Regions from separate parts of the Homo sapiens genome. Here region 2 is linked to region 1. The links come from fine-mapping of genetic effects on gene expression. A gene starts in region 1. The other region holds a variant in brackets. All regions are shown on one strand. Distances are from middle to middle. Region 1 holds the start of CST7 (cystatin F). Region 2 has its middle 7.5 kb from the start of LINC02967.

Region 1 (4,383 bases):
GGGCCCGCTCTGTGTGTGTGAACGTGGGCTCTGGAGCTTCTCTCTGGGGTTTGGTGGCTGACAGCAGGTCTGCTGAGAATGGAGGGAAAGGCTTGGTGCAGCATTACATACCAGCGAGGGGCCGGGAACACCACCCAGGAAAATGACGTTGCCAGCTGCCCAGCACATCGGCTCCCACGCCACCCTGTTATAGTCCCTAGCCTGCTCCGTGAGATGAGCAGAGCTCTGAAACCCCTCAGCAGTCAGTAGGTTTAATTAGATCCCAGGACACGCTAGGACAGCTGGCTCCATGTCCCCTCCAGGAGAGCCTTTTCTGAGGTGTGAGAACGAGCCACTTCTCTGGAGTGAACTTGCCTCTCTTCCCTGCTTCCCCCTTGGACCTTGGAGACACGAAGGGGCAGGGCACAGAATGGCAGCAGGCAGGCAGCACTGCATCAGGACAGGGCCAGGAGGAGAGGCCCCTGTGAGGCTGGGAAGCAGGTGGAGGGCTCCTTGCGTGAGCTAAGAAGGCTCCCAAGCTGGGAGGCAGGGCCGGGTATGCTGTCCCCAGCCTTCTGCCAGCCATGGGTCAGCTCCATGTTCGCTGAGCACTACCCAGAGCTGGTGGCGGTGGCATGTTCCCATCAGTGAGAGCAGAAGCTGCCCCCGGCCCCTCCTCCAGCCTGCCGTGTCCCCTTGGCTGCTCAGTCGCAGCGTCCGCCCTAGGCCAGGCCTGGGAGCTCGACACAGTGTCCCCCAGCATCACTGAGTCCTCAGTATCCTGACTCACCAGGAGGAGGTGAGAACCCTCCAAGAACCCCTTGGGTGCTCTGGAGCCATCCTCTTGTCAGTGGTCCTGCTGCACAGCCCCCACCTGGGCCCCTTTGGCCAGGCTCCAGCCCCCTTCTGTCCCTGTCTGCTGGGTGGGGGTCATATGACTTGAGCGGGTCACCTCAGCCCTCTGGTGCCAGCTTCCTGGTTGGTTAAATGAGGTGGGGGCCTCCCAAGTCCCCATCAGTATCCTGGTCTGATTCCTGTGCCAGGGAGGCCATGGCCCAGTTCCCTTTGGGGGAGAGCAGGTTGTCCCTGGCTGTGTGACTTGGGCAAATCACCTAGCCTGGCTGTGTCTCAGTTTCCCAGTGCACAGGCAGTGGCTCTTTCCTCCCTGTCCCCCCTCCCCCTGAGTGCTGACCCTCAGGGAGTGGATTTCAGGAAGGGTGAAAGAGTCTGATCGTTAGGGTCCCTGGAGCCAAGTCACAGGACAACAGCCAGCAGGAAGGAATGACAAGCCATCAGATAGAAGCGGCTAACCACAGGCATGTGGCTGCCCTGTCGCCTCCGTCCCGCAGAGGAGCTGCGGGAGACCTGCCTTACTTAGACCTTTCTCAGACCTCTGTGAAGAGCCAGAGAATAGAAGATGCTTCCCTTGCCCCTAGCCTTCTGGGGCAGCCCCCAAACCCTTCATCCCTGTAGCCTGCTACCCCCAAAGGTAGCTGCAGCCAGATGGAGCCCCTTGCCCCTCTCACCACTCCCAGCACCTCTCACCACCGCATGGTCCTGTGGGGGCTCCAAGCTAGGAAAGTGCCCTGGGGAAGACCCAAGGCACCAGTGGCCAATCTCAGGGAGAGACCCCCGGGGAGCGGACAGGGGAGAACGCCACTTACCTGGGGAAGGGCCCCCAGTGGTGCTCAAGACCAGGCAGCAGAAGGCCAGCAGAGTTCCAGCCGCTCGCATGGCTGCCCGGGTAGGGACAGTGCGGGGCAGTTGGGGGTGGCCGTGCAGTGCCTTCTCAGGCAGCATGGGGCAGTTGGAGGCAGTGGTTGGTGCCCGTGCCGAGCCTTCTTGGGTAGATGGCGCAGGGCAGGTGGGGGCAGTGGTCTGTGCCCGTGCCAATCCTTCTCAGGCAGCACGGGCCAGTGCCGGGCAATGGTTTGTGCCTGTGCTGAGCCTTCTTGGGCAGCATGGAACAGTGGGCTGTCCCAGCCCAGGGGCAGGTGCCAGGGCCACAGCATGGAACCCCACCCTGCAAACCACTGTGGGATGGGGCAGGGGCGGGGCTAGGGGGCTGCCTGCGTGGTGCTGGGGAGGGGAGTGTTTTGCTGCTGAATCATTTTGGCCAGAAGCTCTTCACCTTCAGATCTATCAGCCACAAAGCAACCGCTTCCTTTATAAAAGTTTCCGAGCAGCCGTCATTTGCTGGGGGAGGAGGAAGAGACATGAGACCCATGAGCAAATCCTGATGCAATGTTCTACCCCTGAGCCACACACGAAAGAGATGTTGCATGAAAAACATTAGCAGGAATTTTCAAAAGCAAAATCACTTGATTTTCCTTTTTCTTTTAATTACTTAAGTTCTGGGGTACATGTGCAGAACATGCAGGTTTGTTACATAGGTATACACGTGCCATGGTGGTTTGCTGCACCCATCAACCCATCATCTACATTAGGTATTTCTCCAAATGCTATCCCTCCCCTGGCCCCGGATCCCCAGATAGTCCTTGGTGTGTGATGTTCCCCTCCCTGTGTCCATGTGTTCTCATTGTTCAACTCCCACCTATGAATGAGAACATGCGGTGTTTGGTTTTCTGTTCTTGTGTTAGTTTGCTGAGAATGATGGTTTCCAGCTTCATCCATGTCCCTGCAAAGGACATGAACTCATCTTTTTTATGGCTGCATAGTATTCCATGGTGTATATGTGCCACATTTTCTTTATCCAGTCTACCATTGATGGGCATTTGGGTTGGTTCCAAGTCTTTGCTATTGTGACTAGTGCTGCAGTAAACATACGTGTGCATGTGTCTTTATAGTAGAATGATTTTTGAGTATATACCCAGTAATGAAATTGCTGGGTCAAATGGTATTTCTGGTTCTAGATCCTTGAGGAATCACCACACTGTCTTCCACAATGGTTGAACTAATTTACACTCCCACCAACAGTGTAAAAGCGTTCCTATTTCTCCACATCCTCTCCAGCATCTGTTGCTTCCTGACTTTTTAACGATCACCATTCTAACTGGCATGAGATGGTACCTCATTGTGGTTTTGATTTGCATTTCTCTAATGACCAGTGATGATGAGCGTTTTTTCATATGTTTCTTGGCTGCATAAATGTCTTCTTTTTAGTGTCTGTTCATATCCTTCACCCAATTTTTGATGGGGTTGTTTTTTTCTTGTCAATTGTTTAAGTTCCTTGTAGATTCTCGACATTAGCTCTTTGTCAAATGGATATATTGCAAAAATTTTCTCCCATTCTGTAGGTTGCCTGTTCACTCTGATGACAGTTTCTTTTGCTGTGTGGAAGTTCATTAGTTTAATTAGGTCCCATTTATCAATTTTGGCTTTTGTTGCTATTCCTTTTGGTGTTTTAGTCATGAAGTCTTTGCCCATGCCTATGTCCTGAATGGTACTGCCTAGGTTTTCTTCTAGGGTTTTTATGGTTTTAGGTCTTAAGTCCTTAATCCATGTTGAGTTAATTTTTGTATAAGGTGTAAGGAAGGGGTCCAGTTTCAGTTTTCTGCAAATGGCTAGCCAGTTTTCCCAACACCATTTATTAAATAGGGAATCCTTTCCCCATTGGTTGTTTTAGTCAGGTTTGTCAAAGATCAGGTGGTTGTTGATGTGTGGTGTTATTTCTGGGCTTCTGTTCTGTTCCATTGGTCTATATATCTGTTTTGGTACCAGTACCATGCTGTTTTGGTTACTGTAGGCTTGTAGTATGGTTTGAAGTCAGATAGCATGATGCCTCCAGCTTTGTTCTTTTTGCTTAGGATTGTCTTGGCTATGCAGGCTCTTTTTTGGTTCCCTATGAACTTTAAAGTAGTTTTTTCCAATTCTGTGAAGAAAGTCAATGATAGCTTGATGGGGGATATCACTGAATCTATAAATTACTTTGGGCAGTATGGCCATTTTCACAACATTGATTCTTCCTATCCATGAGCATGGAATGTTTTTCCATTTATTTGTATCCTCTCTTATTTCCTTGAACAGTGGTTTGTAGTTCTCCTTGAAGAGGTCCTTCACATCCCTTGTAAGTTGTATTCCTAGGTATTTTATTCTCTTTGTAGCAATTGTGAATGGGAGTTCACTTATAATTTCACTCTCTGTTTGTCTATTATTGGTGTATAGGAATGTTTGTGATTTTTGCACATTGATTTTGTATCCTGAGACTTTGCTGAAGTTGCTTATCAGCTTGTGGAGATTTTGGGCTGAGATGATGGGGTTTTCTAAATATACAGTCATGTCATCTGCAAACAGAGACAATTTGACTCCCTCTTTTCCTATTTGAATACTCTTTATTTCCTTCTCCTGCCTAATTGCCCTGGCCAGAACTTCCAACACTATGTTGAATAGGAGTGGTGAGAGAGGGCATCCTAGTCTTGTGCCAGTTTTCAAAGGGAATGCTTC
Region 2 (4,383 bases), 38 kb after region 1:
CCTTCCTGCTTGCCCAATAGCCACCCTCACTGGGGCACCTCTGAAGCCCCCTCTTTCCTCTATGAGGCTTTCCCACCCCTGCCTGCATGCAGGTCCCGCCTGGTGGTGCTGCCTCCCACTGCTGCATGCCTTGAGCCCCTAGGCTCCTTTGGATGGTCTTTGTCTGTTTCTGTGCCAGGGCACATGGCGGGAGGGCAGGCTATGGGCCGGGCAGGGTCATGAGCCATCTGAACAGGGAGGGCTAAGGCAGCTGTGGCCATGGACACTGGGGCTCAGGCTCCCTGGGAGCCTCATGCTGGCCACAGGAGGGGAGGTGGCTGCTAAGCTCAAGGTGGAGGGCAGCAGCCCTGGACTGTGCCTCCCGCATGCAAGAGCAGGCAGAGATGGTGCTGGCGGTGGCCCCTGGGTCAGCGGGTTGGAGCCCAGAGAGGCACTGGGGTGTGGGTGGGGTCCCTGGGGCTTTCTGGCTCTTCCAGTGCTGCTCATCAGAACAGCCAGCAAACCTGGGAACACGCAGCCAATGTTCCTCAAGGACCCCTCATTCTTCTCCATGAAAAACTCCATAAAATATTTGAATAAATTTATTCTGTGCCACATATAAGGACCAAGGGCCCATGACACAGCCCCAGGAGATCCCCAGGGTGATCGGGCTGCAGCTTGTTTTTGAGTTTTAGGGAGACATAAGACATCAATCAATACATGGAAGGTGTACATTGGTTCAGTCCAGAAAGGCAGGGCAACTCAAAGAGGAGGAGGCTTCCAGGTCATAGGTGGATCGGCAACTGGCTGAAAGAGTTATTATCCAAAGACCTGGAATCAATAGAAGGGAATGTATGGGTTAAGATGGGGGATTGTGGAGAGCAGGATTTATCACGCAGATGAAGCCTCCAGGTAGCGGCTTCAGAGCTCTTATCAGACCTGAACGGGTGCCAGGCCCTTAGTTAATTCTCTCCTGGATCATGGAAGAGACCTGGAAAGGAAGGGGATTCTCTACAGAATGTGGATTCTCCCCACAAGAGACAGCTTTGCAGGGACATTTCAAAACATGTCAAAAAAAGATATTTTAGTGTAAAATACTTCGGTTTCTTTCAGGGCCTGCTGCCTGTCATGTGGGGCTATACTAGAGTTAGGTTGGAATTTGGTGTCTCATTGCTACAGGGTCTTGCCCTATTTTGATGTCAATGCTGGTCAGCTGTGCCTGGATTCAAATGAGAGGAGGAAATAATGAGGTCTGTCCGGCCCCCACCTTCCCATCATGGCCAGAATTAGATGTTCAGGTTTATGTTGGAATGTCCTTGGCTGAGAGGAGGGGTCCAGCAGTCGGTTAGGGGACTCAGAATTTTATTTCTGGTTTCATTCTGTAGATCAGAGTGTGGAGCCCAGGAATGAGCATTTCACAGGCTCCCATGCACCCAGGTAGAACCTTGTGCATGGTGTCTCCACGGGGTTCACAGGCAGGCTACCCAGCTGAGGCTCCTGCCCCGCCTCACTCACTTTCTCTCCAGGACCTCCCTCCTGTTTCTCCCAGCATGAGTGCTGATGTAAATTTATGGAGATGGCGTTTCTGCCTCAATCCCCTTCTGCTCTGATGACCCATTATGACTGTGTAATTAAGCTCCCGTGGATCTTCCCCGCAGGCATCTGTAGCTCCCGGGTGTCACTCATCTGCCCAGTGCTGACATGGAACTGAGGATAAATGTATTTCACCGGCTTTTGTTCTATCATTAACTTCTGTAGCTCTTGTGTAAATTTCCAGGTTGCAATTTCTGCATTGGTCTTTATTGAGCAAACCCCCCTTTGTGTGGATGAGTTTAGGGTTGATTTCCCCTCTTCTCTCGCCCTTGACCCATCCTTGGTGACCGTGGTTAGTCTCCAGGGGGCTCTGCCCTAGGTGTGTTCAGCTGGCTTAGATTTGCAGATTATTCCATGTGGTTGGTGTTGGTGTCAGTTACCACCTGATGTGGGAGAACCGCGATCC[G/A]GGATTGGAAGGGATCTCACTCAGTTCTTCATTTGATTTCTTCCTGCAACATTTTATTATAAAGGTTTTTAAACTTTTCCAGGAAAGCTGGATGAATTGTTCAGTGAACACTCACATGCCCACACGCTAGATTTCACAGTGAACTCTTTCTTCATTTATCCTGTATCTATCCATTTATCCATGCATGAATTTGATTATTGTTTTGGCACTTTTCAAAGTAAACTGCACTACAGTGAATGTTAAATTCCCAGGACCCCCCCGTCCCAATGCCTGCTTGATCTCTGTTCAAGAGATGGAGAGCACAGGGCTGGGCCCATGCCCAGGTCTTCTTATGCAGGGGACTCTCCAGCTTCTCTCACCAGCTCCCAGGGGAGGCTGGTGCTGCCCACCCAGGGCCCCACCTGGAGAATTGCTGGTCTAAGCTTACACAGTTTCCTGGGGAATCAATTGTCCCTAAAAAAGCCAGAAGGTCTAGAGTGGTAGCCAGAGTCCTGGGCGTCCTGCCTGAGGATGCCTGTCTTACTCTCGAGGCAGCCATACCAGCCCCTCTGCAGGTGGCCTCAGGCACTCTGGCTGCCAGCCAGGGGCAGGTGCCTCCCTGGAGCAGGTTGCTTGCATTTGGTGCATGGCTCCCTCTCAGGTGGGGTCTTCTCAGGGGCTGGCCAGGCCATAGAGTACCCTCTGTGACTCTCTCCATTCCCACGTGTCACTAGCTCTGCTGAGCACCTGGGGCTGGGGTCCTGGCCAAGTCCCCAGAGAGTGGTGTCACCATTAGAACTGGATGAACCCTGGCACCCAGCAACCCATCTTTGCCCAATTTATTTCCTCACTGTCCAAAGCTAAAATGTTGTATTAAAAGACAAATGCGTGCCTGGACAGTACTTTTACCTCTTTATGCAGGCTGGGGAATGCTGAATTTCACCCTCTGCTCTTGCAAATTAAGTAATTAAGGAAAGAGTGAACCTGTGATAATTGTAGGTGCTTATTGTTACTGATGAAGATGTCCAGGCAGGGATGAGTGTGGATTTCATTAATTTCTCCATGCTTTGGGGTTTGGCTTGAACTCAAAGGCCTTCCTTGAGTGAACTCTTATAAAATCTTTAATTAACTCTTGCCGGTGTCAATATGTTTTATTACCTTCTGCAGCCCACAGCCTCCCCTGGTGTCCAATTTACTTCGATGCTCCTGGGCTGCCAGGACGGAGGCTGGTGCTATGCTCTGCCATGGGGTGGATTAAGTTGCTTTATGTGTTCTGGCTAGAGGGCAATTCCTCTCCATCAGAAATGATGATGGTCACTTTTCTACGGGGGGGCACCCAAGGTTGCAGTGAGAACTTACTGCATCAGAAACAAAAGGGCTGAACTTGGAAACAAGACCTTGGCCATCAAAGGCATGCATAGACGTGGCCTGTGAAGACTCATGCTCGGGTCCAGACCATCGCTTGTAAGTGGTGGGGTGCGGATCAGGGATGTTGCCCTACAGAAGTGAGGCAAGGGGCTCACCCCAGGCCCCATGTGGGCACATCACTGCTGACCCCTGAAGTTTACTGGGCTGGGGTCCACAGCTGGCCAGCCCCCCTGGGGAAGGAGCAGGAATTAAGCTTTTCCATTTTGTGTCTCGGGGCTGTCAAGGGGATCGGATGTCAGCAGTGTGTGGCTCCTCCTGGGGTTACCTGCCCATTGCATCCCCGCCCACAGAACCAGGAGGGCTGGGAGGCAGCCAGCCCCAACCAGGGAGGGACAGGGTCAGTGGGTGAACACTGCCTGCCTATGGGGGGCCCCCGAGGGGCACCTTCCACAGTGTCAGAACTCCCAGCGGGATGGGTGAGACAGTGGCTGAGCTGTGGGCAATAGTGAGCCCCTTTCCGGGCCTTGCCACCCACCCTTGTCCTGTTGCCTGGAGTAGTCCTCCCAGTAAACTGCCCACAGCAAGCCCTTTCTCCCAGTATGCTTTGGGGAAGCCCAATAAAGACAAAGATGTCAGAGGTGAGGTGATGTGGGGAAAGGTCAGAGCATGGACGGCGGTCTGAGGAGGAGGCCGTGGAGAAAATGGGAAGAAATAATGAGAATTTCATTTGAAATACACATTTGTACACATCATTCCCCAAACCCAGGTCATAAACTCCAGCACCCTGGAGCCAGGAGGTCCCTGGCAGGTAGTCACTGCCCTGAGGCACAAGACTGAGGTCTTTCATGGCTGAGGGGTTGAGTTCTGTTGGGTGGAGGTGCCTCAGCCTGCCTTGAATTCCCTGTGACACCAAATCCAAATAAATCCAATGTTGATCTTTGAGGCTGGTGTCTTAGTCTGTTTTCTGTAGCTATAACTGGACACCAGAGACTGGGTAATTTGTATAAAAAAAGAAATTTATTTAGCTAATGGTTTTGGAGGCTGGGAAGTCCAAGGGC

The links. PIP is the estimated chance that this variant, and not a neighbour inherited with it, causes the effect.
Region 2: its variant is the best candidate, but not a certain one, in a credible set for the expression of CST7 in skeletal muscle (GTEx, PIP 0.79).

The regions. Positions count from the first base shown.
Region 1 is chr20:24,946,836-24,951,218 of GRCh38, reverse strand. It overlaps CST7 (cystatin F), which reads right to left and starts at 1,950. Exons shown (of 4, transcript NM_003650.4): 1 at 1,644-1,950. The coding sequence starts at 1,713. RefSeq lists an enhancer at 2,235-2,284.
Region 2 is chr20:24,908,855-24,913,237 of GRCh38, reverse strand. No RefSeq gene overlaps it. Among named protein-coding and RNA genes, the nearest start is that of LINC02967, 7.5 kb to the left of the region's middle. The variant G/A (reference allele first, on the strand shown) is at 1,979.